2 linked regions of the Homo sapiens genome follow. The protein of the gene in region 2 interacts with the protein of the main gene of each other region in a pairwise test. Each region holds a gene or a part of one and is shown on either strand. Other genes may lie near its edges. The genes, in order: HR and ATP23.

Region 1 (11,407 bases), on a different chromosome or scaffold from region 2:
GCCCTCCCTGTGGGGCCCAGTGGGTCCTAAGCCCCTGTGCCCCTCTCTGCAGGATGACCGCATCACCAACATCCTGGACAGCATTATCGCACAGGTGGTGGAACGGAAGATCCAGGAGAAAGCCCTGGGGCCGGGGCTTCGAGCTGGCCCGGGTCTGCGCAAGGGCCTGGGCCTGCCCCTCTCTCCAGTGCGGCCCCGGCTGCCTCCCCCAGGGGCTTTGCTGTGGCTGCAGGAGCCCCAGCCTTGCCCTCGGCGTGGCTTCCACCTCTTCCAGGAGCACTGGAGGCAGGGCCAGGTGAGGCACCCCTCCCCTCCCCTCCCGGCCCTGGCCACCCCACCTGCCCCTCGGGGCCTTGGTCCCTAGGCCCAGACAGACCCAGTGGCTCAGGGGGAGCAGGAGGGCTGTCCCCGAGCTGTTCTACTGCCCTTACAACACGCCCTTGCCTGGCCATGGCGGGCACCCTGGCCATTCTCCTCATGGCCTCCTTCCTTTCCCACCACAGCCTGTGTTGGTGTCAGGGATCCAAAGGACATTGCAGGGCAACCTGTGGGGGACAGAAGCTCTTGGGGCACTTGGAGGCCAGGTGCAGGCGCTGAGCCCCCTCGGACCTCCCCAGCCCAGCAGCCTGGGCAGCACAACATTCTGGGAGGGCTTCTCCTGGCCTGAGCGTAAGTGTCCCCAACACAGGGGAGAGGGAGCTGGGAGCCCAAGCCCTAGGGATCGGGTGGCAGAGGAGTCCCAGGGTGACCCCGAGGGGCTGGAAGCAGGTGTTGCTGCCGCCGGGGCAGGGGCTTCAGGGCTGAGGAGGCCAATGGCCGTTCTGTCTCCTCCTGTAGTTCGCCCAAAGTCAGACGAGGGCTCTGTCCTCCTGCTGCACCGAGCTTTGGGGGATGAGGACACCAGCAGGTGTGTATGTCACCAAGGGCCAGCCCTACCTCCCCGCCACCGCAGGCCCCGCCTGGTTCAGCCCTCCCCTCCTCCTCTGCCCCCAACCCCCACCCCGTGGTCCCTGGTACTCTCATGTTTGCCCTCTGGGAGTTACCCCGGTGGTGGTGGGGCTTTGATGGGGTCTCTGGTGCCCAGGTTGGGCCTGCTGGGCATGACCCCCTACCCTGACAGGGTGGAGAACCTAGCTGCCAGTCTGCCACTTCCGGAGTACTGCGCCCTCCATGGAAAACTCAACCTGGCTTCCTACCTCCCACCGGGCCTTGCCCTGCGTCCACTGGAGCCCCAGCTCTGGGCAGCCTATGGTGAGTGTCCCTCCACTCCTGCCCAGTCTCTACTCCCATGCCTGTCTGCCTGTCATCTCGGGGCACACGAGCGTCTGTGCCAAGGCCCTGGGGCCTGAAGCGCTTCTCTGATTCCATTTCTTTCTTTCTTTTTTTTTTTTTTTGTTGTTGTTGAGACGGAGTTTTGCTCTTGTTGCCCAGGCTGGAGTGCAATGGCACTATCTCGGCTCACCGCAACCTCCGCCTCCCAGGTTCAAGCAATTCTCCTGCCTCAGCCTCCCGAGTAGCTGGGATTACAGGCATGCACCACCACGCCCGGCTAATTTTTTCTATTTTTAGTAGAGAGGGGGTTTCTCCATGTTGAGGCTGGTCTCAAACTCCTGACCTCAGGTGATCTGCCCGCCTGGGCCTCCCAAAGTGCCAGGATTACAGGCGTGAGCAACCGCGCCTGGCTCTCTGATTCCATTTCTAACTGTTCTTTCTCTATTGCCATGCAGGTGTGAGCCCGCACCGGGGACACCTGGGGACCAAGAACCTCTGTGTGGAGGTGGCCGACCTGGTCAGCATCCTGGTGCATGCCGACACACCACTGCCTGCCTGGCACCGGGCACAGAAAGGTAGGTCCTCGGCCAGAGGCAGGAGCGGGGACAAGCTACAGAGGTGAGTGTTTGTCGCCACCAGCCCTGGGCCTGCCTGAGCGCTCTTTCCTCCTCAGACTTCCTTTCAGGCCTGGACGGGGAGGGGCTCTGGTCTCCGGGCAGCCAGGTCAGCACTGTGTGGCACGTGTTCCGGGCACAGGACGCCCAGCGCATCCGCCGCTTTCTCCAGATGGTGAGGAGGCAGCCGGGAGCCCTCCCCTTCCCCCCGCCCAGCCCTAGAAGCTCGTCCAGTCCCACCCCAGTGTGCGGTCCCATGTGCTCGCTCCCTGCCCCACGCCCTCAGGTGAGCTGCACAGACCCAACTCGCACAGACAGGTGCAGAGAAGGCAGAGGGGACCCGGAGTTCTGCCGTGGGGCTCAGAGAAGGGGCAGGGGCTGCGGCAGGAGAGCCTGGACCCGATGATGAAATGAGAGCACCAGCTGCCCGAGGCTGGACGTGGTGCTAGGGCCTTAGGCACAATTATCTGTTACCCGTCTCAGCCCCCCGCCCCATGAGGCAGGCACTGCTCCTTTCCCATTGGCAGATGAGAACACCGAAGCTCAGTGGCAGGGCTGGGATCTGAGCTTCTGTCTGTCATGGCCCCAGGTCACTACTCTATGCTCTTCCTGGAGGCAGGCAGCCTCCTCTGCCTTCTGAGACTCCGTCCGGCTGCCCACCTTTTGGTATTTGCATCTTGTTAGGGGAGACTGCCTGGAGGAGATGCTCCCGGAGGGGCTAGCAAGGAAGGGGGCTGAGGGAAGTGGAGGGAGAGATGGGTCAGGTGAGGAGCCAGGGAAGGGGAAGGTGATGGGGTGGGCTGGAGGCAAGAAGCTTGAGGCGCAGGGGAGGAGAGAGTCCAGGGGTAAGGCGAGGGCAGCCCCGTGGTTCCCAAGTCCAGCTGAGCCCTCATTATCCTGGGGAAAAGACTTCCACCTAGTGTCACCCCTCGCCAAGGCACACACACACACGGAGACGTGCAGAGGCCAGCATGGTGTGCACCCCTCCTGCCCACAGGTACACACATGTGTAGATACACACACAGATGCTGGGACACGCAGAGGGGAGCAGACAAGCACACCTCCACACACAGATGGCCTCTTCTGGGCTGGGTGTGGCTGGCCGTGGGCAGTCACTACGGCCCAACCCAGTGACTCACGGGGCAGGGCTGAGGGGCACAGTCTCCCTGGGTGGCCTGGGAAACACTGCTCAGCTCCAGGATGGAGCTGAATCTCCAAGGGCAAAGGAATCTTGGCACCCAGCTGGGACTCCCCTAGGGTCCAATTTGCTTCACCAGCCTTCCCTTCCCCCACGCCCCATCTTGCAGCCCTAAGCCCAGGGGCAATGGCTGAGGTCCTTGCCAAAGGGGGTGGATTGGGCTGGTGGTGGGTTGGAGCACGATGCTGGCGTCCCCTTTGCACATGTTCCCTGGGCACCTCTGTCCTCTGCGAGTCCCTGCCTGCCCAGAGAGCTCCCTGCTCTGGTTAGGCTTGTGAGGTCCCCGTAGCTGTGGCTGCTGCAGAGGCCTCAGCCTGGCCGGAAAGCCTGTTCACCTGCTGGCACTCAGAGCCTCGCAGTGGTCCTTCCCTTTTCTGCATCCGGAATCTTAGGGAGACCCTGATGAACACTTTGAGTTGTCTCCCCAGGGACACACAGCTCTCTCCTCATCCACCACTTAGCACACAATTCTGGCCATTCCAAAGACTTCAGATGAAGAAGTCCTGGTAGACAGTTTATGAACTGGGATTATGCAGGACGTCTCCCTCGGATTTGCAGAAAGGGGTACCATTGAGAGAGGGAGGAGAGGGGCCGAGGTCACAGAGGCTGTTAAAGGCCTCCAGCCCCAGAAAAGCAGGGATTCAGTCTGCCCAACTGTAGGGCCTTGAATCCCTTCCTTCTAAGCTCCTTCCAGCCAAATGTGTGTTCTGCCAACCTGAGCTGCCCCAGCCCCAAACAAACTCAGCCATGCCCTCCCTGCCTGCCCTTCAAGACTTGACCCTTCGGCTCTTTTCTCCACCCCTGGCCTCTGGAAAGTCCATGCCCCATCCTCCTGCAGCCCTGCCCTTCCCTCCCCATCTCGCTCATTCCCCCTTCTCTTCTTTGAGGTGTGCCCGGCCGGGGCAGGCGCCCTGGAGCCTGGCGCCCCAGGCAGCTGCTACCTGGATGCAGGGCTGCGGCGGCGCCTGCGGGAGGAGTGGGGCGTGAGCTGCTGGACCCTGCTCCAGGCCCCCGGAGAGGCCGTGCTGGTGCCTGCAGGGGCTCCCCACCAGGTGCTTCCCAGCGGGCAGGGGCTCTGCGGGGAGATCAGGATGGCAGAAGCGACCCAATCAAGGCCGCAGGCATCCAACATCCCCTCAATACCCAAGAGCCGGGCAGGGCAGGGAGCCGCACGCTGCTGTGGGGAAGAGATAACGGGGGAGCCAAGAGGCCTTGAAGTCACTGAGCCCAACTGGGACTGGCGCCAGAGTCCACTCCTGGTCTCCTGGGCATGCTGATGTCAGGGGGCTCGCAGGGAGACTTTAGGGTCTCTCCAGCAGTTCTGAGTCCCGGTTTTGGCCACAGGCTTTGAGGTGTCCAGTGGTGCATCCAGGAATCTGCTCTCTGAGAGCCAGGGGTCGGGGGTGGTTGTCATTAGAGGAAGCGAACCTCAGGGACCAGGGGGACAGGGAGAGGATGTGTGATCTTGAGCCTCACTGTCCATGTCCCCCCGACACAGGTGCAGGGCCTGGTGAGCACAGTCAGCGTCACTCAGCACTTCCTCTCCCCTGAGACCTCTGCCCTCTCTGCTCAGCTCTGCCACCAGGGACCCAGCCTTCCCCCTGACTGCCACCTGCTTTATGCCCAGGTGAGTGGGATGTGGGCCAGCAGGCTGGGTGTGCTACCCAAGCCTCCCACCTCCCTGTGCCACAGCTGCAGTGGACATAGCAGATCCCACCCTGTGCCAAGCAGGCAGCCACCCTGTGCAGGGGCAGAGTATTCCTTTTGTTTAGTTTGTTTCATTTTGTTTTTTGAGATGGAGTCTTGTTCTGTCACCTAGGCTGGAGTGCAGTGGCACTATCTCAGCTCCCTGCAACCTCCGCCTCCTGGGTTCAAGTGATTCTCCTGCCTCAGCCTCCCAAGTAGCTGGGACTACAGGCGCCCACCACCATGCCTGGTTAAATTTTTTTGGGATTTTTAGTAGACGTGGGGTTTCACCATGTTGGCCAGACCGGTCTTGAACTCCTGACCTCAAATGATCCACCTACCTTGGCCTCCCAAAGTGCTGGGATTACAGGTGTGAGCCACCGCATCTGGCCAGAGTATTCCTTTTAAGTAGGGTGGGGGACAGCGGGTGGGCCCAGGAATGTAGTTGAAAATGCTTTGTCCTCTCTCTTTTTCCTAGATGGACTGGGCTGTGTTCCAAGCAGTGAAGGTGGCCGTGGGGACATTACAGGAGGCCAAATAGAGGGATGCTAGGTGTCTGGGATCGGGGTGGGGACAGGTAGACCAGGTGCTCAGCCCAGGCACAACTTCAGCAGGGGATGGCGCTAGGGGACTTGGGGATTTCTGGTCAACCCCACAAGCACCACTCTGGGCACAAGCAGGGCACTCTGTTCCCCTCCCCCTTAAGCCAACAACCACAGTGCCACCAAGCTCACACCTGTCCTTCTCAGGCTGGCATCTCCCCCACCCTGTGCCCCTTTTCATGGTACCAGGCCCGCACTGGGGGCAATTGACTTCCTCCAATCCCCACTCCTCCGAGACCCAGGAGACAAACAGCCCTTCCTTGGGGAAACTTGGGAATCATTCTGGCTTAAACAACACCTCCTCCTGCTGCTCACTCCCGCTGAGCCCACTCTACTGCCCCAGCTCCGTTTCTACCACCGCATCCTCACTGGGCTCACTGCAGGCATGCTGAACAAGGGGCCTCCAACCTTCTGCCCTCCTGCCAAAAGATCTGGGGAGTGTGAGGAGAGGGTGGCATCAGGAGCTGCTCAGGCTTGGCGGAGGGAGCGGCATGGGCGATGTCACTCAGCCCCTTCCCGGTCCGCCCGCTTCCCTCCTTCATGATTTCCATTAAAGTCTGTTGTTTTGTGACTGCTGCCAGTGTGGTTGGCCCTGCCCCTGCAGGCCACATGGTCCAGGGAGGGAGGGGGACATGGAAATCTGCCTTAGAGACAAATGGAGTAGGGCAGCCCGGAGCTGGGGCCCAAGGGACAGGACACCACTGCCTGCTCTTCGTCTGGGGCCTGGGGCCTTGCCTCCCACTGAGGAGACTTTGGGTGGGGTGGGGGGCTGTCCCCCAAAGATGCTCCTGAGTGCAAGAGCAGGCAAGGCAGAGTCCTGGGGCACAGCCACGAGGTGACCTCCCTGTGCAGAGACTCCCGAGCCCTACTCCACCCAGCAAGCTCCAGTCCGCCCCATCTCTCCCGTCTACCCTGACCTGGAGATCCAGAAGTATGGCCCAGAAGAGCCCTTGCCCCGCCTGTCTGCCCTTGGTGGCAGTGGCCATGGCCGACGCCAGGCCCAGCCACCCTGGGACTGAGCCTGACTGCTTCAGACAGCCGACCCCTCCTTGTCCCCGCTCCACGCCCGCAGCCTCCTGGTGGCGCTCCGCCCTCTCCCGCTTCCTTTGTGTATCTCAGCCCTACAAAGAAAAACACTCCCACTCTTGTCATACCTAATTGTTCCTGCTGTGGTTTGGGGAATTTTTTTTATTAAATAAAGTTTTTTATTATAAGGGTAATATACTTTCAGAACATTCAGAAAATAAGAAAGTCACCTTCTAGCCCATCATTACACACCTCCAACTACTATGAGTATTTTGGCATATTCCCTCCCAGTGCTTTCCCCAAGGATTTGCTGTGCACATAGCTGGATTGCTGTGTTTTGTCCTTGGTTTCTTTCTTTCGACACCATATCATAATCATTTTCTGTGTTGCTACCTAATCTTCATTTTAAATGACTGCTTATATTCCATTAAGTGGCTTTGCCATGATTTACAAAACTATGCTTTATTTAAAAAAAAAAATGTAGGGCTTCTTTCATTGTTTGGAGAACTCAGTTATTTTCATTTTTTTATGGGATAAAGAGGAGAAAAGAAAAGAAAAAACTGAGAACTCTACAGTTTACTTTGCTTTTGTTTTCATTTAATTTATCTCATCTGGCCAGGCGACGTGGTTCACGCCTGTAATCCTAGCACTTGGGGAGGCAGAGGCGGGTGGATCACTTGAGGTCAGGAGTTCAAGACCAGCCTGGCCAATATGGTGAAACCCTGTCTCTACTAAAATACCAAAAAAAAAAAAAAAAAAAAAAAAAAAAATTAGCTGGGCATGGTGGCAGGCGCCTGTAATCCCAGCTACACGGGAGGCTGAGGCAGAAGAATCGCTTGAACCTGGGAGGTGGAGATTGCAGTCAGCCGAAATCATGCCACTGCACTCCAGCCTGGGAGACAGAGCAAAACTCTGCCTCCAAAATAATAATAATAATAATAATAATAATAATAATAATAATAATTTATCTCATTTAATCCCTTTTATTAAAATGATCTCAGTTAATCCGTTATCAGGATTTTAAGACAGATAGGATTTATTTCCATTTTACAGAAGAAGAAACAGGCAAGCTACAATTAAGTAAATTACCCAAGGTCGCATAGCAATTTTAGTGGAAGAACTGGGATTTGAACCAAGTTTTCTGAGTCAAGACACCTTGTGTACATTATAGTCTTAACTCTTAGTGGAATTTAAAGACAGGCTTGCCCTCCTCTCTGTCCTTCTTCTTCCAATGTACGTGCTTTATAGCTGATCATGTTCCAAGTGGCCCCGAATGACCCATTCCTACCTACGTTTCATCTTTTGTTTGAGACAGGGTCTCACTCTGTCACCCAGGCTGGAATGCAGTGATGCAATCTCAGCTCACTGCAACCTCTGCCTCCCGGACTCACGCCATCCTCCCACCTCAGCCTCCTGAGTAGCTGGGACTACAGGTGCATGCCACCATGCCTAATTTTGGTAGTTTTTGTAGAGACAGGGTCTTGCCACACTGCCCAGGCTGGTCTCGAACTCCTGGGCTCAAGCAATGTGCCCACCTTGGCCTTCCAAAGTTCTGGGATTACAAGCGTGATCCACCATGCCCCACTTCATCTTCTGTAGCCATGTCCTGATGTCACCTCAGAACCCCAAATCTGGAGTATTTCCTGTGGGAAGATGGTTCTCTGAATTTTACCCATTGGGGTGGGAACAGTGCACCACTAAACCTCTGTCTTCCCCTCAAGACCTTATCTCCTCTTAACCGCCTCTGGCCTTCCAGGTGGGTCACAATGCCCTTGAGGACATATTTGGTCTCTTTGTAAACAGAAGTGAATCAATGTTCATTTGTTCCAGCACTGTTCCTGAGAATGCAGCCGGACCAGGTAGGGACTGACTCGGAGACTCGTCTTGGGGCACTCTGTGGCACTGTTCCTCAGAGACCCTTGGGCCTCTGCTGCTCACAGGGTCTACCAGCTGTGCTCTGCCTGCAGCCCCTCTGTCGCTCAGAAATCCCAGACATACAACCAGCCAAGCTGGAAGTGAGCGCAGGGTTGCATACCCAATGCCTTCTTTCCTTTTCTCTGATAAAATTCTCAGACTTTTTATTTTCCCTTTTTACCCAGGAGCATAGATTCGAGTTGCCCTGAATATACATGCTCAGGCTTTTTATTTTGAAATAATTTTAGATTTACAGCTGAGTCACAAAGATAGCACAGGAAGTTCCCAATTATCCTTCACCCAGCCTCCCCTATTGTGAACATCTTACATAACCATGGTGCCTTGATCAAAACTACGACATTAATATTGATACCACACTACGAACGAAGCAACAGGCCTCACCAGGATTTCACCAGTTTTTTCATGAATGCCCTTTTTCTGTTCCAGGATCCAACCATGCCTGCATTTGACAGATGGCCTGGAGGGTAGATGTGGCGTCCCCAGGGTCCCTCAGAGAGCTAGCCTGTGGCCAGCCCTCCCTCTCCCGCTGTAGCTTGGGTTCCTGCCCTCCTCACCTTCCTACCTTGTCAAGACACAGGCCTTGTTGCTCTGTCCATGGCTCTAGCATCACAGATGCCCTGATACAACCTTGCCCTGCCTGTCCCTATCCCCATCCCCATCCCCATGGTCGCCTACCCAGGCCTTCCTGCTCCTGTGCTCCCCCCATCCCACCCCCACCGCACATGCGCACATATGCCCTGAAACGGCTGGCTCTGGCTTGGCTCCCAAGGGTGCTGGGAGCATTAAGCTACTCCCATTCACCATACTGTGCGGCCCGCCACACTGGCCAGGGTTCTTCCCTCTCTGTGACTGGAGGACACACAGTTGACTTGATGGGGACACTGGTGGTTCCTATCTAGCCTCCCGTCCTCCCTCAGCTGCCTCCCTTGTCTCAGGGCCTCTCCAGCCTCTGTCTCACTGCTGTTCTCTCCCAAGGCCTTGGGAACTCCTGCCTCTTTGTTGTCTCAGCACTCCCTTCACAGTTTACAAGAGGCTTTGGGGGAGGGCTTTACCCCCCGGGATAATGGGAGGCGTGGAGCCACGGTTTGCTGCGGTCTTTGCTCTCTGGGCAGTGAGGCCTTCTGTTGTTTACCTTAGGCTGCCTCTGAAGCTCCCAGATCCCTGCCTAGACATGATCTCACTCTCTCAAATCATCCCTGCGAGGCAGACAGGAGTCTGGGTCCAACTTCCCCCACTTCACAGGTGGGAAAACTGAGGGATTCACACATGTGTGTGCCGCAAGACACACACACACACACACACACACACACACACACACACACACACAGAGCAAATATGTTGACAAGTTGCTCTGCAGTCCTGGGGTCCTGTGCCTGCAGTTATTTGGAAGGTGAGAGGTCCATGATAGGGCCTGGCCCAGCGGCGTTCAGCAAGTGCCTCAAAATTCATGGGCCTTCTAGTGATATCCCACAGCCTAACACAGGGCCCTGCCTCCAGGGAGCCTGTGGTCAGTATCAGCAGGTGAGAGGAGCCTAAAGAGATGCATCCTGCGTTGCTGAAGTTCCTGAGTCCAGTTCTAAGGCAGCTCTACAGGCACATTTCGCCAGGCATGGTGGCTCATGCCTGCAACCACAGCACTTTGGAAGGCCAAGGTGGGAGGATCACTGAGGCCAGGAGTTCAAGACCAGCCTGGGCAATACAGCAAGACCCTCGTTTCTACAAAGAATTAAAAATTAAAAATTTAGCCAGGCGTGGTGGTGCACACCTGCAGTCCCAGCTACTCAGGAGTCTGAGGCAGGAGGATGACTCGAATCCAAGAGATCAAGTCTGCAGTAGGAGCTGTGATCACGCCACTGCACCTCCAATCTGAGCAACACAGTGAAACCCTGACTCTAGGGGATAACAAAAGTCACATTTCATGAGGGCAGGCCTTGCGTGTGGTAGCAAGAGCTATGGTGGAGAGGGACCACCCCTGAGGGTTGGTGGGCTGCCTGGGGACGGTGCCCAGTGCTGGACAATCCACACAGCTCCTCTCCAATTGTTGTGGCTTCCCAACACCCCTGTAAAAGAAGAATTGCTATGATCCTGCTCTACAAATAAGAAAATTGAGGCCCACAGCTCACCCAGGAGCACAGAGCAAGCCAGTCAGCAGTGGCTGGCCATCTGGCTGCAGGTCCTGAGCTTTGTCCACACCACCAAGCCACAGTCTCCCTAGCAGGGAGGCGCACAAAACTATCAGAGGCAGAGGAAAGGGGTGGCCTCTGCCAGGTGAGGAGCCAGACGGCCTGCTTCGCAGATCCCTTCCAGCTGGCTTTGCCTTCCAGTGCTGAGGTGGGGTGAAGGAGGAAAGGCCGAGCTGGGAGAGGAGCAGGCGCTCGCCACAACCACCCCCACCCTGCTCTCCACGCGCCAGGTCCTGCACGCTGGGTGGGAGGGTGACGACAAGGATGGAGGAGCAGGGCCCCACCCCCGCCCTCCCAGGGCGCACCATCTGCAGCAGAGAGGGCCTTGAGCTGCGTGGGAAATGCGGTAGGCAGAGGGACACTGATGAGGGTGGGCCGGCTGACGGCAGCCTTCTCTCAGCCCCGGACCCCTCCCGCCATCCCCAGCCCTGCCCCCTCCCTCCTTCCAGCGCCTGTCACTCTTCCTGCCCAAACCAAGCATTTAGCACTTAGCCTCGAACCCTCAGCTGACTCCTCATCTAGGACTCCGTCCATCTCTCCAACTATTGCAGAATCTCCTTCAAGGCAGGGGTTTATGTCCCCCACCCCACGGGCCATGTGACATTTATAACTCTTTGGTGGAATGAGAAGAAAGGTATTTGGGATATGATCAACTCCGGCAATGCCATTGTGTGTTTACGGCAACAGCGGGACAGTGGTTCCAGGGGGCGGCCCCGGGCCTCCGTGACGTCACCGGATTGTCGCGTCACCGTCGCCTACCCCGGCGGCGCAACGCGCCCTGCAGGAAAGATGACGTCACCGTCGGAGCTCCTGCAGACCAGTGCGCGCTCGGGGAGTTGGCGAGCGGGTGGCGGCTGGGAGACGTCCCGAGCGCACGGGACTGACAGGCGG
Region 2 (16,109 bases):
GATCAGTTGGCTGTAAGTATTTGGGTTTATTTCTAGGTTCTCTATTCTATTCTATTGGTCTATGTGCCTATTTATACCAGTACCAGTACCATGCTGTTTTGGTGACTATGGCCTTATAATATAGTTTGAAATCAGGTAGTGTGATGCCTCCAGATTTGTTCTTTTTGCTTAGTCTTGCTTTGGCTATGCAGGCTCTTTTTTGGTTCCATATGAATTTTAGAATTGCTTTTCCTAATTCTGTGAAGAATGATGGTGGTATTTTGATGGGGATTGCATTGAATTTGTAGATTGCTTTTGGCAGTACGGTCATGTTCACAATATTGATTCTACCCATTCGTGAGCATGGGATGTTTCCATTTGTTTGTATCATCTATGATTTCTTTCAGCAGTGTTTTGTAGTTTCCCTGTAGAGCTATTTTGACTCCTTGGTTAGATATATTCCTTTTTTTTTTTTTTTTTCCCCAGCTATTGTAAAAGGGGCTGAGTTCTTTACTTCATCCTCTGCTTGGTTGCTGTTGGTATATAGAAGAGCTACTGATTTGTGTACATTAATCTTGTATCCAGAAACTTTGCTGAATTCTTTTATCTGTTCTAAGAGCTTTCTGGAGGAGTCTTTGGAGTTTTCAAGGTAAACAATCATATCACCAGCAAACAGTGACAGTTTGACTTTCCCTTTACCAATTTGGATGCCCTTTATTTCTTTCTCTTGTCTGATTGCTCTGGCTTGGACTTCCAGTACTATGTTGAAGAGGAGTGGTGAGAGTGGGCATCCTTGTCTTGTTCCAGTTCTCAGAGGGAATGCTTTCAACTTTTCCCCACTCAGTATTATGTTGGCTGTGGGTCTATCATAGATGGCTTTTATTACAAGGGACATACCTGTCCCTTGTCTGCCCATTTTGCTGAGAGTTTTAATCATAAAGCAATGCTGGATTTTGTTGAATGCTTTTTCTGCATCTATTGAGATGATCACATGATTTTTGTTTTTAATTGTTTGTGTGGTGTATCACATTTATTGAACTGTGTATGTTAAACCATCCCTGCATCCTTGGTATGAAGCCCACTTAATCATGGTGGATTATCTTTTTGATATGTTGTTGAATTCAGTTAGCTAGTATTTTGTTAATGATTTTAGCATCTATGTTCTTCAAGGATATTGGTCTGTAGTTTTCTTTTATGGTTATGTCCTGCCCTGATTTTGGTATTAGGGTGATGCTGGCTTCATAGAATGAATTAGGAAGGGTTTCTTCTTTCTCTATCTTGTGGAATAGTGTCAAAACGATTGGTATCAATTCTTCTTTGAATGTCTGGTAGAATTCTGCTGTGAATCCATCTGGTCCGGGACTTTTTTTGTTGGTAATTTTTTAATTACCATTTCAATCTCGCTGCTTGTTATTAGTCTGTTCAGGGTATCTAATTCTTCCTGGTTTAAGCTAGGAGGATTGTGTTTTTCCAAGAATTTATCCATCTCTTCTAGGTTTTCCAGTTTATGTGCATAAAGGTGTTCACAGTAGCTTTGAATGATCCTTTGTATTTCAGTGGTGTCAGTTGTAATATCTCCTGTTTTGTTTATTAGTGAAATTATTTGGATTTTCTTTCTTATTTTCTCAGTTAATCTTGCTAATAGTCCATCAATTTTACTTATCTTATCAAAGAACCAGCTTTTTGTTTCATTTATCTTTTGTATTTTTGTTGTTGTTATTGCTGTTTCAATTTCCTTTAGTTCTGCTCTGATCTTGGTTACTTCTTTCTTCTACTGGGTTTGGGTTTGGTTTGTTCTTGTTTCTCTAGTTCCTTGAGGTGTGACCTTAGAATGTCAGTTTGTGCTCTTTTAGTCTTTTTGATATCAGCATTTAGGGCTATGAACCTTCCTCCTAGCACCACCTTTGCTTTATCCCAGGGGTTTGGTAGGTTGTGTCATTATTATCATTCAGTTCAAAGAATTTTTTAATTTCCATCTTGATTTCGTTCTTGACCCAATACTCATTCAGGAGCAAGTTATTTAATTTCCATGTATTTGCATGGTTTTGATGGTTCCTTTTGGAGTTGATTTCCAGTTTTATTCCACTGTGGTCAGAGAGAGTGCTTGATATAATTTTGATTTTCTTAAATTTATTGAGGCTCATTTTATGGCCTATCCTAAGGTCTACCTTGGAGAAAGTTCCATGCACTGTTGAATAGAACGTGTATTCTGTGGTTGTTGCATGAAATGTTCTGTATATATCGGTTAAGTCCATTTGTTCCAAGTTATAGTTTAAATCCCTTGTTTCTTTGTTGACTTTCTGTCTTGATGACCTGTCTAATGCTGTCAGTGGAGTACTGAAGTCCCCCACTCTTGTTGTGTTGCTGTCTCTCATTTCTTAGGTCTATTAGTAATTGTTTTATAAATTTGGAAGCTCCAGTGTTAGATGCATATATGTTTAGGACAGTAATATTTTCCTGTTGGACATGGCCTTTTACCATTATGTAATGTCCCTCTTTGTCTCTTTTAACTGCTGTTGTTTTAAAGTTTGTTTTGTCTGATGTAAGAATAGCCACCCCTGCTCACTTTTGGTGTCCGTTTGCATCAAATGCTTTATTCCACCCCTTTAGTTTAAGTTTATGTGAGTTCTTATGTGTTAGGTGAGTCTCCTGAAGGCAGCAGATAGTTGGTTGGTGAGTTTTTATCCATTCTGTGGTTCTATTTCTTTTAGGTGGAGCATTTAGGCCATTTACATTCAATGTTATAATTGAAATGTGAGGTATCATTGCATTCATCATGCTCTTTGTTGCCTCTGTATTTTGGTTTTTTACTTTTGCTTTTTAATTTGTATTTTCGTTTTACAGATCCTGTGTGATTTATGCTTTAAAGAGGTTCTGTTTTGATGTGTTGCATTTCCAGGATTTGTTTCAAGATTTAGAGCTCCTTTTAAGCAGTTCTTGTGGTGGTGGCTTGGTAGTGGTGAATTCTCCCAGCACTTATTTGTCTGAAAAAAGACTGTATCTTTCCTTCATATATGATGCTTTGTTTCACTGGATACAAAATCCTTGGCTGATAATTGTTTTGTTTGAGGAGGCTGAAGATAGGGCCCCAATCCCTTCTGGCTTGTAGGGTTTCTGCTGAGAAATCTGTTGTTAATCTGATAGGTTTTCCTTTATAGGTTACCTGGTGCTTCTGTCTCACAGCTCTTAAGATTCTTTCCTTCATCTTAACTTTGGATAACCTAGTGACAATGTACTTAAACAATGATCTTTTTGTGATGAATTTCCCAGGTGTTCTTTGTGCTTCTTGTATTTGAATGTCTAGGTCTCTCGCAAGGCCAGAGAAGTTTTCCTTGATTATTTCCCCCATATATGTCTTCCAAGCTTTTAGAATTCTCTTCTTCCTCAGGAACACTGATTATTCTTAGTTTTGGTCACTTAACATAATCCTAGACTTCTTGGAAGCTTTGTTCATATTTTCTTATTCTTTTTTCTTTGTCTTTTTTGGATTGGGTTAATTTGAAGACCTTGTCTTCAAGCTCTGAATTTCTTTCTTCTACTTGTTCAATTCTATTGCTGAGATTTTCCAGAGCATTTTGCATTTCTAAAAGTGTGTCCAAAGTTTCCTGAATTTTTTATTCTTTTTTCTTTAAGCTCTCCATTTCCTTGAATATTTCTCCCTTCACTTCTTATATCATTTTTTGGATTTCCTTGCACTGGGCTTTGCCTTTCTCTGGTGCCTCCCTGATTAGCTTAATAACTAACCTCCTGAATTCTTTTTCAGGTAAATCAGGGATTTCTTCTTGGTTTGAATCCATTGCTGGTGAACTAGTGTGATTTTTTTGTGGGTGTTAAAGAGCTTTTGTTTTGTCATATTACCAGGGTTAGTTTTCTGGTTCCTTCTCATTTGGGTAGTCTCTGTCAAAGGGAAGGTCTAGGGCTGAAGGCCATTGTTCAGGTTCCTTTGTCCCACAGGGTGTTCCCTTGATGTATACCCTCCCCCTTTTCCGATGGATGTGGCTTCCTGTAAGCCAAACTGCTGTGATTGTTGTCTCTCTTCTGGGTCTAGCCACCCAGTGAGTCTACCCAGCTCCATGCTGGTACTGGGGGTTGCCTGCACAGAATCCTGTGATGTGAACCGTCTATGGGTCTCTCGGCTGTGGATACCAGCACCTGTTCCAGTGGAGGTGGCAGGGGGGGTGCAATGGACTCCATGAGGGTTCTTAGCTTTGGTGGTTGAAGGCTCTATTTTTGTGCTGGCTGGCCTCCTGCCAGGAGGTAGCGCTTTCCAGAGAGCATCAGTTGTGGTAGTATGGAGAAGAACTTGTGGTGAGTGGGGCCCTAGAACTCCCAAGATTGTATGCCCTTTTTGTTCAGATACCAGGGTGGGTAGGGAAGGAACATCAGGTCGGGGCAGGGATAGACATGTCTGAGCTCAGACTCTCCTTGGGCAGGTCTTGCTGTGACTGTTGTGGGAGATGAGGGTGAGATTCCCAGGTCACTGGAGTTGTGTCCCTAGGAGGATTATGACTGCCTCTGGGGAGTCATGCAGGTTGTCAGGGAAGTAGGGGAAAGCCGGCAGTCACAGGCCTCACCCAGCTCCCACACAAGCCGAAGGGCCAGTCTCACTCCCACCATGCCCCCCACCACAGCCCCAAGTCTGCTTCCAGGTGGTGGGTGAGACAGGCTTGAAAACTTGCCCCAGGCTACCCACCTCCCAGCTGTGAAAGAAAAGAGCTTGGTTCTTCCCCTCTGTGGATTCTGCACATGGGATTTGTGCCCTCTCCCAAGTTCTGGCCGGGAGGCTTCTTGCCCCATTGAAATAGTTACAAAGTTCAGCTAGAGATGTCCTTCTCCCTGTGGAGTTTTACCCGCTGCTCTTCTGGCTGCCCTTGCAATGGATCTCTGTGGTGACAGGCAGGAATGGGCTGCTTGGGGACCCAGCGAGCTCCCTGGGCCTTCCTGCTGCTTGCTCTACCCCTGTATTTCGCTCGGCTCTCTAAATTAACTCAGCTCCAGGTAAGGTCGGAAACTTCTCCCACAAACAGACCTTCAGTTTCTCCAGTGGGGGGGTGTGTGTGGGAGAGGAGGGTCTCCCTTTCCCACTTCTGCAGTTGGGCACTCACAGTATTTGGGGTGTCTCCTGGGCACTGTAGGAGCAGTCGCTTCCTTCAGAGGGTCTGTGGGTCCTCTCAGTATTGCTGGTTTGTTCTTGCAGTCGATCTGGAGCTAAAATTCGAGCACTGCCTTTATTAAAAAGAAAAAGATCTAACCAGGACTGTCCCCAGAAAATTAGGCCATATGGGTCCCACATATATGATAAAAGAAGAATAGGGAGAGGATAGCATTGACCACTGAATGAATTATTTCCAATTTTCATCATAACAACAGCTCAATAAGTATCCTACAATGAGATCAGTACACATTTCTTTACATTTAATGTAAATACCAACAGTGGTCACCTATCAACATCATGGAAGAGCACACTTCACAGGTTTCATAATCAAATTTTAAAATAATCACATGTAATAAAAACAAATGACTAAAATACAAAAATGTAATGTATTTATTTACTAAATGGTTAGCTATAAAGATACAATTTCTGCCTTGGAGTTTAAAGCAGTTTCATTTTTTGCCATAGTTACTTTTTCTGATAATATGCTAGAATCACAGTCTTCTCTGTTTTATCTGGATTGTAGGGATTGTTTACATTTTATATGTTTGTTCACTTGAGAACCAAATTTTTTTTTCTTCATGATGATGGAAGCTCTGTAATATAAAAATGTCATTGTGCTCATATATTTGAATAATACCGATCACGGTTTTCAAAGTCTCTGTGAGCATATCTTGCATAAGTCTTGTTATGTGGGATCCTTCCAAAAGGTTCATGGTCATTGAAACAAGATTCAAAAACTTCATCAACAGCCTTTTTAGCTACTTCTTTGCTGATATTCCTAACAGCCAGGATAGAAAGAGTGGCTCTGTCTCGCACACAAGTCTAAAAAGAAGGAAAAGTATGAGGCTCTAATTTTATATAAACATTTAATCACGAAATAATACATTTTATCTAATGTCTGAATTAATTAAAATTAATTTCCTCATATTATTTTACTAATTTCTGTCATTCCAAAGAAGAAAACAAAATGAACAAAGATCCATAACACTTAAGGAGTATTTTTAGCTCAACCTAAAATTATTTAGGCATAAGTAAGACCTTCTCCATTTTCTCATCTTTCCCACTGATATAAGCAGATGTCATTCTCAGAAATTCTTGGCAGTGTCTGCCAAACAATATCTCCCAATTTGCAAACTCGCCAAAAAAAAAAAAAAAGTCTATAAAGTCCTGATTGACTTTTTGATAAAATTTAATTAAATTTAAAATATACTTCACTTCTGTACCTCTCTTTCTTTTCAGTTGACCAATGCTAGATAACTTTTCCTTTGAGAAGGGTAAGTCCTCTCTGGAGGCAACAGGAAACCATACACATATCCACCCGAACTTGGAATGTACCTTAATTTTTTAGGGGGTGTGGAAATTAAACAACTTTTTTTTCCTGATTGTTCTTTACACAGATATTAAAGTTCTAAGATAATAATTTACCTAACATTTCATAGTAATAGGCTAGAATTTCTCAATACTCTAATTTAAATATTTAAGAAATATAAGGCCCTGCCATTCCAATTCTTGGAGAGCTTTTAATCCATTTATTTCTCCCCAGGACCAATCTAAAACTCAAAAGAATGGCATTTGACCTTTTCCTAAAAATAATCAAACACTGGTTTGGATGGCTGTGCATCCTGACAGCCATCCGTTTTCTCCACATGTTCCCAGTTTTTCATTGGCCTGGTCAGTGTGCTCAAGCTGGAGATATTCACTAACATTGGAATATAGTGTTTCTCAACCTGAATTTTACTAAACGCTGATTTTAAAAAATAAACCCCAGGCATAAAGGAACAAGAAAAGGAAGAACCATGTGAAGCCAAAACAACAGTTGCTAAAAAGAGAGGAAATTTCTCCCCTCCAGGGAAAAAAGGTACAAAAATTTGTCTCCTGAAGCCACAGGGTTGGGAGACACAAGTGTAGACCACAGATTTACTTCTTTTCAGACATAATAAATTTCTGTTAAAATAAAGATATGACTATGCAATTTTACAATCAGTAACTGTACTTGCTGTTTCTATTTCCTGGGTACATGCTGTACAAAAGCAGGGACTCCATTCTCTAAGACTCTTCTCCCTCAGCCAGATTCCTACTACCTCCACTTATTTTCTGTCCTATTGCTGTTTCTATTTGTTTTCTGCTGCTGCTACCCAATGGTAAAAAGAGGAAAACTTCCTCTTTCAAAGATTGTGTGCATCACAAACCTATCACAAAGATAGAAGGTGAATTAAAAAAAAAAAAAACATGCTCTATTTCTTTAGTATATCAACTGATTTTTTTTTAATTGGAAAAGAATATAAAATTAGCATATTTTTCTAAAAACAGAGTATATGTAATAGTTTTTTTTTTTAAGGAATTTTTCAAACTCTATTGACAAGAGCAGATATCCATAAGCTATGCCAGCACATGCTTTAACCACATTATTCTCTTCTCTAGGGGCGTGCTGATGTGTACCCTGCTTCCACCCTCTCCACTGACAGCCAGAACACACAGAATTCACCAGAGAAGCAGGGACTCAAGGGCACAGAAAACATGCAGCACAAGACAAGTCACTGGCATATCACTAAGCTGACCTGGCAGAGGCTGAACACCTCACTGTCTAGAGTAATCACCCTTTCCAGGCAGAAGGCTTTTCTTCTCCCTCCCATTCACTAAGTTCACAATTTCTGAGTAGCTCACTGTGACTTTCCACCCCCCACTCCAGAGTTGAGTTACTCTCTTCTCCAGAAAACCAAGGGCCTTCCTGTTGTCCTAAGCCTATCTTTTTTCATCTAGTTGGAACTGATATCGTGATGCTCATATACTTCACAAACTGACTCAGCAGGCTCTTACTGTAGAAAATGACTGACCAGCCTTTCTCCTAAATGTGGACACAGGCCCAGGCAGAACTGCTCACATTCATTATCAATCCATGAGTCCTATACTTTCTTTCCCCACGTCCACCTAATACAGATCTCAAAGCCTTTCTACCAGGATAATCTTGCCTTATAGCTCTCTTTTGTTTTTTGTTTTTGTTTTGTTCACACAAATCCCTCTCAGCTAAGCTCATCATACTCAAGTCTGTGCTAAGCCAAAGGTTTTCTATCACATTATATAGCCTTTACAGGTACACTGACACATAGCCATAACTTGTGCAGCAACACACTCTCTGTTCTGAAAGGGATTACATCTTTTGTCTCCAGAATGCTATGGTAGATTCAAAATAGAAGTCAAGAATTGTTAGAATAACAGTAAGACATGCTGTGATTTCACTTCCATTCCTTATCCACCCCCATCGAAAAGTATCCCAGATGCAAGATCTTAGCTCCTTTTTTTTTTTTTTTTTTTTTGAGATGGAGTCTCACTCTGTGGCCCAGACTGGAGTGCAGTGGCATGATCTCGGCTCACTGCAACCTCCATCTCCCAGATTCAAGTGATTCTCCTGCCTCAGCCTCCATAGTAGTTGGGACTACAGGTGTGCTCCACTACGCCCAGCTAATTTTTTTGTATTTTTAGTAGACACGGGGTTTCACCATGTTGGCCACGCTGGTCTCGATCTCCTGACCTCGTGATCCGCCCGCCTCGGCCTCCCAAACTGCTGGGAGGCATAAGCCACCGCACCAGGCCTCTTTTCATTATTAGACTATCTCACACACTCATTGAGTCACATAGCTTGCCCATAATTACAAAGTAGAACTAAATTCCATCTACTTTGTTTAAATGGTACATACTTTGTATTCTTTTCACATACGAAGTTCTTTCAAATTTCAAATACTGAATGTACTTTTCATTTCTTTATTCATTATTTCCACTCGTAACACTCTGGAGGGGAAGTGATTTCATATTAGTTTTTACCTGGTGGTGTTGTTTTAATCCAAAATGTAACCTGAATATTTCATTGACAAGTGAGCAGTCTCCACTAAGGTTAGCAGCTCGAACCTATCACACAGAAGACAAATAAAAAGAAATAAACGCTCATGCTCTATATATCTTTATGATATCAACCAATTTTTAAAAATTAGAAAAGAATATAAAATTAGCATCTTTGTCTGAGAAAAGAGTATTTGTGACACTTCTTCTTAAAGGACTTTTTAAACTCTATTGACAACGAGAGCAAATATCTATGAGCTATGCTAGACAATGCCAAATACACTGGAGAGATGGGGAAAAGTTCAATCGCCTACCAAAGGAAATTTTCTAAACTTTATGCGTAGCTTTACTGACAGAACTAATTTCTTTTGGAACCAAAAGTCAGAGAGCTAGACCTCAGAGTTAAACTACACACTCTACAAGATACAAATACTTGTAGAAATTGCCAAAAGTACTTCAAGAAAGCATTCTTGAAATAAACTGAGTTTCAATGTGACCTTAAAACTGAATGCATTAATATCTGAGACACTTTGAGAATATGCCCCTCCCAACCCTTGCCCGAATCTCCCTTGGAGCTTCCCTCAAACCTATATAAGTTCATGACCTTCCTCTAGGGACTTGATTGTCCTATGAAAAATGAAGCAATACAAAACACAAAGAATCAAGAACATTCCAAACTGGTCACGCTATGAGCATGACAGCCTGAAATTAGGACATATTTTCAGATTTACTATACTTCAATGAATGAAAAAGTCTTAGAACTACCCACATAGATTCTACAGGCAGCTTGACCACATTTTTGCTAATTCATTGCTAACAGAATGGCCCACTTCTTGTTCCTTCTTCAATATTATGGCCTCATTCCTCTGAGGAGCTCAAAGTACTTAACACACTTTAACTAGCTAAAAGGCATTAATTCTCACAGTACCCAAGAAAGAGACCTATTTAAAAATTCAGGTTTCAGTCTATTCTCCAAATAATTGGAATTATAATTAGATGCAGGGGGCTACATATTAATTTCAAGAGAAAGGGAAATAATCGAAGTTATATAGTATAGGCTTGAGATTTAGATTATTTTAATTAACTCTTCAATTAATGACATCCAAGTATATGCATATGCAGAATACGCTCTCTCTAGGAGCATATTCCAAGAGCAATCCAACGTGCTTAGTAATAAATATCTTTTTATGTTGTATTTTTGAAAAGAGCATGTTTTACTCTAGGGCAAGCAAGGAGCTCTATGGAAGGCAGCTGGGCAAGCTAGTTAAAAACACTAGTTGTAATCCTGCCTCTACCACTTACTAACTTTGGAATCTAAACAACTGTCTCACTTTCCACATATGTAAAACAGGGACAATAATAGTATAATATCTATCTCAGTAGGTTATTGTGAAGATTAAATAAGAATCTGTGCAAACAGAACAGTGTTTGGAACACAGCCCTCAGTAAATTTTAATTATTTTTTTATTTTTATTTTTATTATTAATGTCTCCTATGGAATACATTATAAAATATATTCCATAGGAAAAAATTAATAGCTTATTAAAGTCAGTCATCACTATTACTAGGACTTACAGGATATAGTTAAGAGAATTCTAAAAATACACTTTAAATTTCTCTAACTGTATATCAAAAATGGTATTCAATGTTAGTTATAAACCGAAATTCAAGACTAAGGTAGAACTATGACAGTAAGAAAAGGAATACATTTAAATAAATTACACTTGAATAAAATATTCAAGCATAGAGTATTCTGGAGAAAAATACAATAAAACTCACCTCTGAGCACGCCAAATGTCTGATGTTGGTGAACCAGTCGACATGGGCACGACAATGATCAAATGCATGAATAAGCTCGTGTGTGACCACTCTGTTCATATGGGCCTGATTATGGATATTATTCTGGCACAAAACTATCTAGGAGACACCAAAATAAAAGAAGTTCAGTGATTCTAAAATCTCCTTCCATAGACTCGATCTTCTCTCCCACATGACCTCACCTCTCCCCCACAAGCTCACCTGCCTGGAATATCTCTACCCACTCTTCTTCATTGGCCACACATCTACCCATGGGACAAGTCCTAGTCCTAAGTGTACATGCTCCAATTGCCTCGCCCAGTGACTAACTTCTCCCTTCTCCTCTCTCTGGACTACAGCAGTACTTAGATTAAGGACACGTATTCACACACCATCCTTACTGGGCTGATCGTACTAGTCTGTCTCGGACTCCACAGCATTATGGTTAAGAGAGTGGGCTTTGGAATGAAGCACACAGATTCAAATTCCAGCTCCACCCCTTACTAACTCAGTGACCTTAGGCAAGTTTCTTAATCTCTCTGTACCTCAATTTCCTCAACTATAAAAAGGAGATAATTAGGGTAGCTACCTCATAGAACTGTGAGAATTAAATGAGAATATATGTAAAATACTTCTTATCAAGTTTCTGAATGAGCATTGAATGAAAAAGGAATGACCACCACTGTCCTCATTTTACTAGAATGAGGGCAAATGCCAGGGAAAACTCATCAGAAAGACCTTCAGAAAGAAGTGCAAAACACAACAGCACACTGAGCAGGACCCTATAAGAATAAGAAAGACACAAGGGATCCTAATAGTAATAGCTGCCATTGATTGTGTACTACTGCCAGACACTGGGATATGTGCCAGATATTTATATACATTCATTCAACATCCATTGATTCAACTAATACTTATTGAGACCTAATAATAGATTATAATCTACTGATGGAGATAGAAACTAACCAAATATTTACCAAAATGTTTACATACATGCAATGACAGTTGTCATGAAGAAAAACCCAGGTTGTCATGAGCATATACAATGAGGTTGGGTGCAGTGGCTCATGCCTATAATCCCAGTACTTTGAGAGGCTGAGGCAGGCAGATTCCTTGAGCCCAGGAGTTCGGGACCAGCCTGGGCAACAGAGCAAAACCCCATCTCTATAAAAAAATAAAATAAAAATTAGCCAGGCATGGTGGCACATGCCTATAGTCCCAGCTACTTGGAAGGCTGAGGTAGGAGGATCACTTGAGCCCAGGAGGTTGGTGCTGCAGTGAGCCAGGAACACGCCACTGAACTCCAGCCTGGGCAAGAAAGGGAGACCCTGTGTCAAAAAAAAAAAAAAGAAAAAGAAAGAATGCCTGACCTACTCTGGAGGTGGGGGAAGGTTTCTCTGTGGAAGGAATGGTTAAACTGGTATCTAATGGAGGAATAGAAGTGAAATTTGAGGTGTGGAGGGGAAGGGAGTATTCTAGGCAGAGAGAAAAACCTATGCAAAGCGTAGAGGGAGGGTTGACGGAAGAAAATGCTTGAGAAGCTAAAAGGAGAGCCCTAGAGTTGAAGCACAGCGGTGGGGGTGGTAGGCAACAGATACGGCTGGTGAGGTCGGGGGGCCAAATCCCTGAAGACCTTGTCTTTACCCTAAGAGCAATGGGAAGCTCTCAGGATAAAGGGAATGTTGAAACAGAAGACTGCTTTTGTTTTATTTTGCTTTTATCCTTTTAACTATAGTTGGAAGAATAGGCAGGAGATGGCCAAAACTGGATGCAGAGAAATTAGCTGAAGGCTAATATTCTAGGCAAGAGAGAACAGCACTTCAGCTAGAATGGTGGTGGAAGCCAAAAGAGTTATTTAGGAGGTAAATTAGACAAAATATGTTGATAGAATACGGGGAAGGAATCAGGGGTATCAAAGATGATCCATAAATTTCTGGCTTGGCTAATAGGGTCGATGGTAGCACCATCCACTGAGATATGCAAAACTAAAAGACTGGGTTGAGTGGGGAGATGGGGGATGGTAAAAATCATGAATTTGGACTTACACATTTCAAGTCTGAAGTGTCCTTAAGACCCTTAAGTAGGTGGGGAGCAGTGGCTCTCACTTGTAATCCCAGCACTTTGGGAGGCTGAAATGGAAGGATCATTTGAGGCCAGGAGTTTAAGACCAGCCTGGGCAACATAGTGAGACCTCATCTCTACAAAAAATTTTAAAAGTTAGCTGGGTCCAGTGATGCACTCCTGTAGTCCCAACTACTCAGGAGGCTGAGATGGGAGGATTGCTTGAGCCCAGGAGTTCAAGGCTGTAGTGAGCCATGATTGCGCCACTGCACTCCAGCCTAGGCGACAGAGCAAGACCCTGTCCCAAAAAAACTTTTTTTCCTTAAAAATAAAAATAAATAAATAAATAAAAAGATGCTCAAGTAGAGGTGTTAAATGGGCACTTGGATATATGGAATGTGGAGTTCTTAAAAGTGAGCTTTGACCCCAGAAAATTGATGAGACCTCCTTGGCAGAGTAAGAAAAGAAGGGGCTCTATGACCAAGGATTGAGGGACTTTGACATTTAAATGCTAGTAGAGGAAGGTAAGCTAGCAAAGGAGCAACCAGAAGAGTGCTGTATACTAGAAACCAAAGAAAGTGTTTGGCATTAACAGCTGAAGTCAAGTGTATACAAACTATATGACCCAGTAATTCTGCTCTTGAGCATATACCTTAGAGAAACTCTTGCACATGTGCACCAGTAGCGAAGGTCAAAAATATTCATAGCAGCATTGTTCATAATAACAAAGTTGGAAACAATCAATATTAGAGTAAACTATAGTATAAACACACAACGGAATAAATACCATATAACAGGGAAACGAAATAAACCAGAGAGGTACACACAACAACAAGAAAGAATCTCACAAATGCTGAAGGTGGAAAGTAATTGGAGACTATATACTGTACAATTTCATAATACTACAAAATGCTACATAAAATTCAAAGTATAACATGTATAAAGCTCAAAAGCAGGCAACTAAATAACACACTGTTGGATTGTATATGTAGATGGTAAAGCCATTCAGAAAAGCAGGGAATGGTTACCACAAAAGTCAGGATAAGGAAGGGAAAAGGACCTGATTCAAGAGGACCACGAAGGCTTCTGAAGTCCTAGTAATGTTCTTTTTCTCTAGTCTGGGTGGTGGTTACATAGGTGTGCACTTTATTATTACTGAAAGTGTACATATAGATGTTTTACTCTTCTGTATGAATGAGATACTTCATAATAAAAATTTTCATTTAAAAAAATAGGCCAGGCACAGTGGCTCACGCCTGTAATCCTAGCAGTTTGGGAGGCCAAGATGGGTGGATCACCTGAGGTCAGGGGTTCAAGACCAGCCTGGCCAATATGGTGAAACCCTGACTCTACTAAAAATACAAAAATTAGCTGGGCATGGTGGCACATGCCTGCAATCCCAGCTACTCAGGAGGCTGAGGCAGGAGAATCACTTGAACCCAGGAGGCAGAGGTTGCAGTGAGCCCATATTGCACCACTGCATTCCAGCCTGGGTGACAGAGTAAGACTCTGTCTCAAAAATAATAATAATTTAAAAAATAATAATAAAATAAAAGGAGAGGGTGCCCAACTGTGTTCAACACTGCTGAGAATTAGGATGAAAGTTCAAGATGTGCACTCTGTTTAACCCTGGGGGGACCGAGAAGGGAGTGAACTTATCCAGAGCCATTTTGAGAGCTATAGGTATTGTGATTACCAGTTTACAAATGAGGAAACTGAGAAGAAGAAAAATAACTTGCCCAAGCCCCACAGATAATAAGCAAGGAAACTAGGATTTGAACTCAAGTCTGACTCCAAAATCTAGACTTCTCATCCTTGTTCTATATTGCCACTTCACATGATTACTGTAAAAATGCTATAAATAACCTAAATACATACAAAATTATCCAGCAGGAAACAGTTAAGTGTAGTTAAGTATGAATTATACATTCAAGTGGGAAACAGTTACTTATAACACCATCATTTACCCTGATCACATGACATTATCTACCACCTCCAAGACTCTGTCGAAACTCTCTGATGACTTAAAACTAATAATAAAATTTATTGAATGCTTACTATGGGCCAGGCACTAAGATAAGCAACTCTATAAGAGATATCTCATTTAATTCTCATAATCATTCCATAAAATAGATACAATCGTTGCCCAAATTGTACAGATTAGAAAACTCCCCTAATAAAAAATTTTCACAGGCAGTATCAATTCTCACCACGTAAAGGTAAAAACCCTTTAATTTAGCATTCAAAACCTCCCACCATAGGGCTTACATTTCCTTCCAATCCTATTTTCCCTCATTCCCCACATGTTCCTGCCCTCCAGATAAACTAGACAATATGCCATTCCCTACACATGCCATGCAGTTTCGTAGCATGCACTTTTGCTCATGCTGCCCCTGCTCTGTCCCTGCTCTGCCCCTAAGGAGGCTTTATATCCTCTAGTCGAATCTGTTGGCATCTTTCAATCGATCACATCACTGTTCCATTGTGGTAACCAAGCCCACCTAAAATGGTTTAGCTTGCCTCATTTTATAATTATCTGTGTTCATGTCTTATCTTTCCTGTAAGGCTGTAAACTCCTTAAGAGATTTTAAGAGTAAACTCCTTAGAGTAAGGATAACTAATTCACTTTTTTAGTCCTACATAAAGTCTACCAAACAGAATGCCGAGCATGTGGAAGATGCTCAAAAAATATAAAGAGAGAGGATTAAAGGGAAGGAAACAATTTGGCAATAATGCCTACCTGAGATGTTGAAGCATCAAAACCTCCACTGACATTTCCATTACAGTCTTCGCAAGAAAAGTGTCTATCTTTGTTAACAGCACTAAAAGGCAAGAAAAGGAGACAATGTCCAGAAACAGTGTGTATGTGGCAAACAGCCCTGGGCCAGGGCTCAGGAGACCCTCCACCATATAGTAAATCCCCTCTACTACTAACACATAGGAAATCTTGGGAAAGAAACAACATCTTCAGGACTGTTATCTCACCTGTAAAATAAGGAGGTTGTACACAAAATCCATTCTAGTTCAAATTCTATAGATATGATTCCATAAAACATTTGTCCCCCAGGCGCGGTGGCTCACGCCTGTAATCCCAGCACTTTGGGAGGCCGAGGCAGGTGGATCACCTGAGGTCGGGAGTTCAAGACCAGCCTGACCAACATGGAGAACCCCCCATCTCTACTAAAAATACAAAATTAGCCGGGTGGTGGTGGGCGCCTATAATCCCAGCTACTCAGGAGGCTGAGGCAGGAGAATCTCTTGAACCCGGGAGGCGGAGGTTGCG

What was found.
Region 1: the proteins of ATP23 (region 2) and HR interact in binary tests that used the Homo sapiens proteins (3 or more experiments, as listed by UniProt).

Annotation. Positions count from the first base shown.
Region 1 is NC_000008.11:22,109,604-22,121,010, reverse strand, and holds the end of HR (lysine-specific demethylase hairless), read left to right. Parts: intron 1-52; coding exon 53-295; intron 296-503; coding exon 504-669; intron 670-837; coding exon 838-907; intron 908-1,120; coding exon 1,121-1,251; intron 1,252-1,727; coding exon 1,728-1,847; intron 1,848-1,945; coding exon 1,946-2,061; intron 2,062-3,971; coding exon 3,972-4,136; intron 4,137-4,582; coding exon 4,583-4,711; intron 4,712-5,248; coding exon 5,249-5,311; 3' UTR 5,312-6,592; downstream 6,593-11,407. Other genes in the region: 8-oxo-dGDP phosphatase NUDT18, read left to right, coding at 10,858-10,862, 11,068-11,407. UniProt on the Homo sapiens protein: Histone demethylase that specifically demethylates both mono- and dimethylated 'Lys-9' of histone H3. May act as a transcription regulator controlling hair biology (via targeting of collagens), neural activity, and cell cycle.
Region 2 is NC_000012.12:57,946,534-57,962,642, reverse strand, and holds the end of ATP23 (mitochondrial inner membrane protease ATP23 homolog), read right to left. Parts: intron 15,918-16,109; exon of another isoform or gene 15,883-15,917; coding exon of another isoform or gene 15,812-15,882; intron 15,649-15,811; coding exon 15,567-15,648; intron 11,930-15,566; exon of another isoform or gene 11,759-11,929; intron 10,886-11,758; coding exon 10,748-10,885; intron 9,038-10,747; coding exon 8,954-9,037; intron 5,957-8,953; coding exon 5,753-5,956; 3' UTR 3,495-5,752; downstream 1-3,494.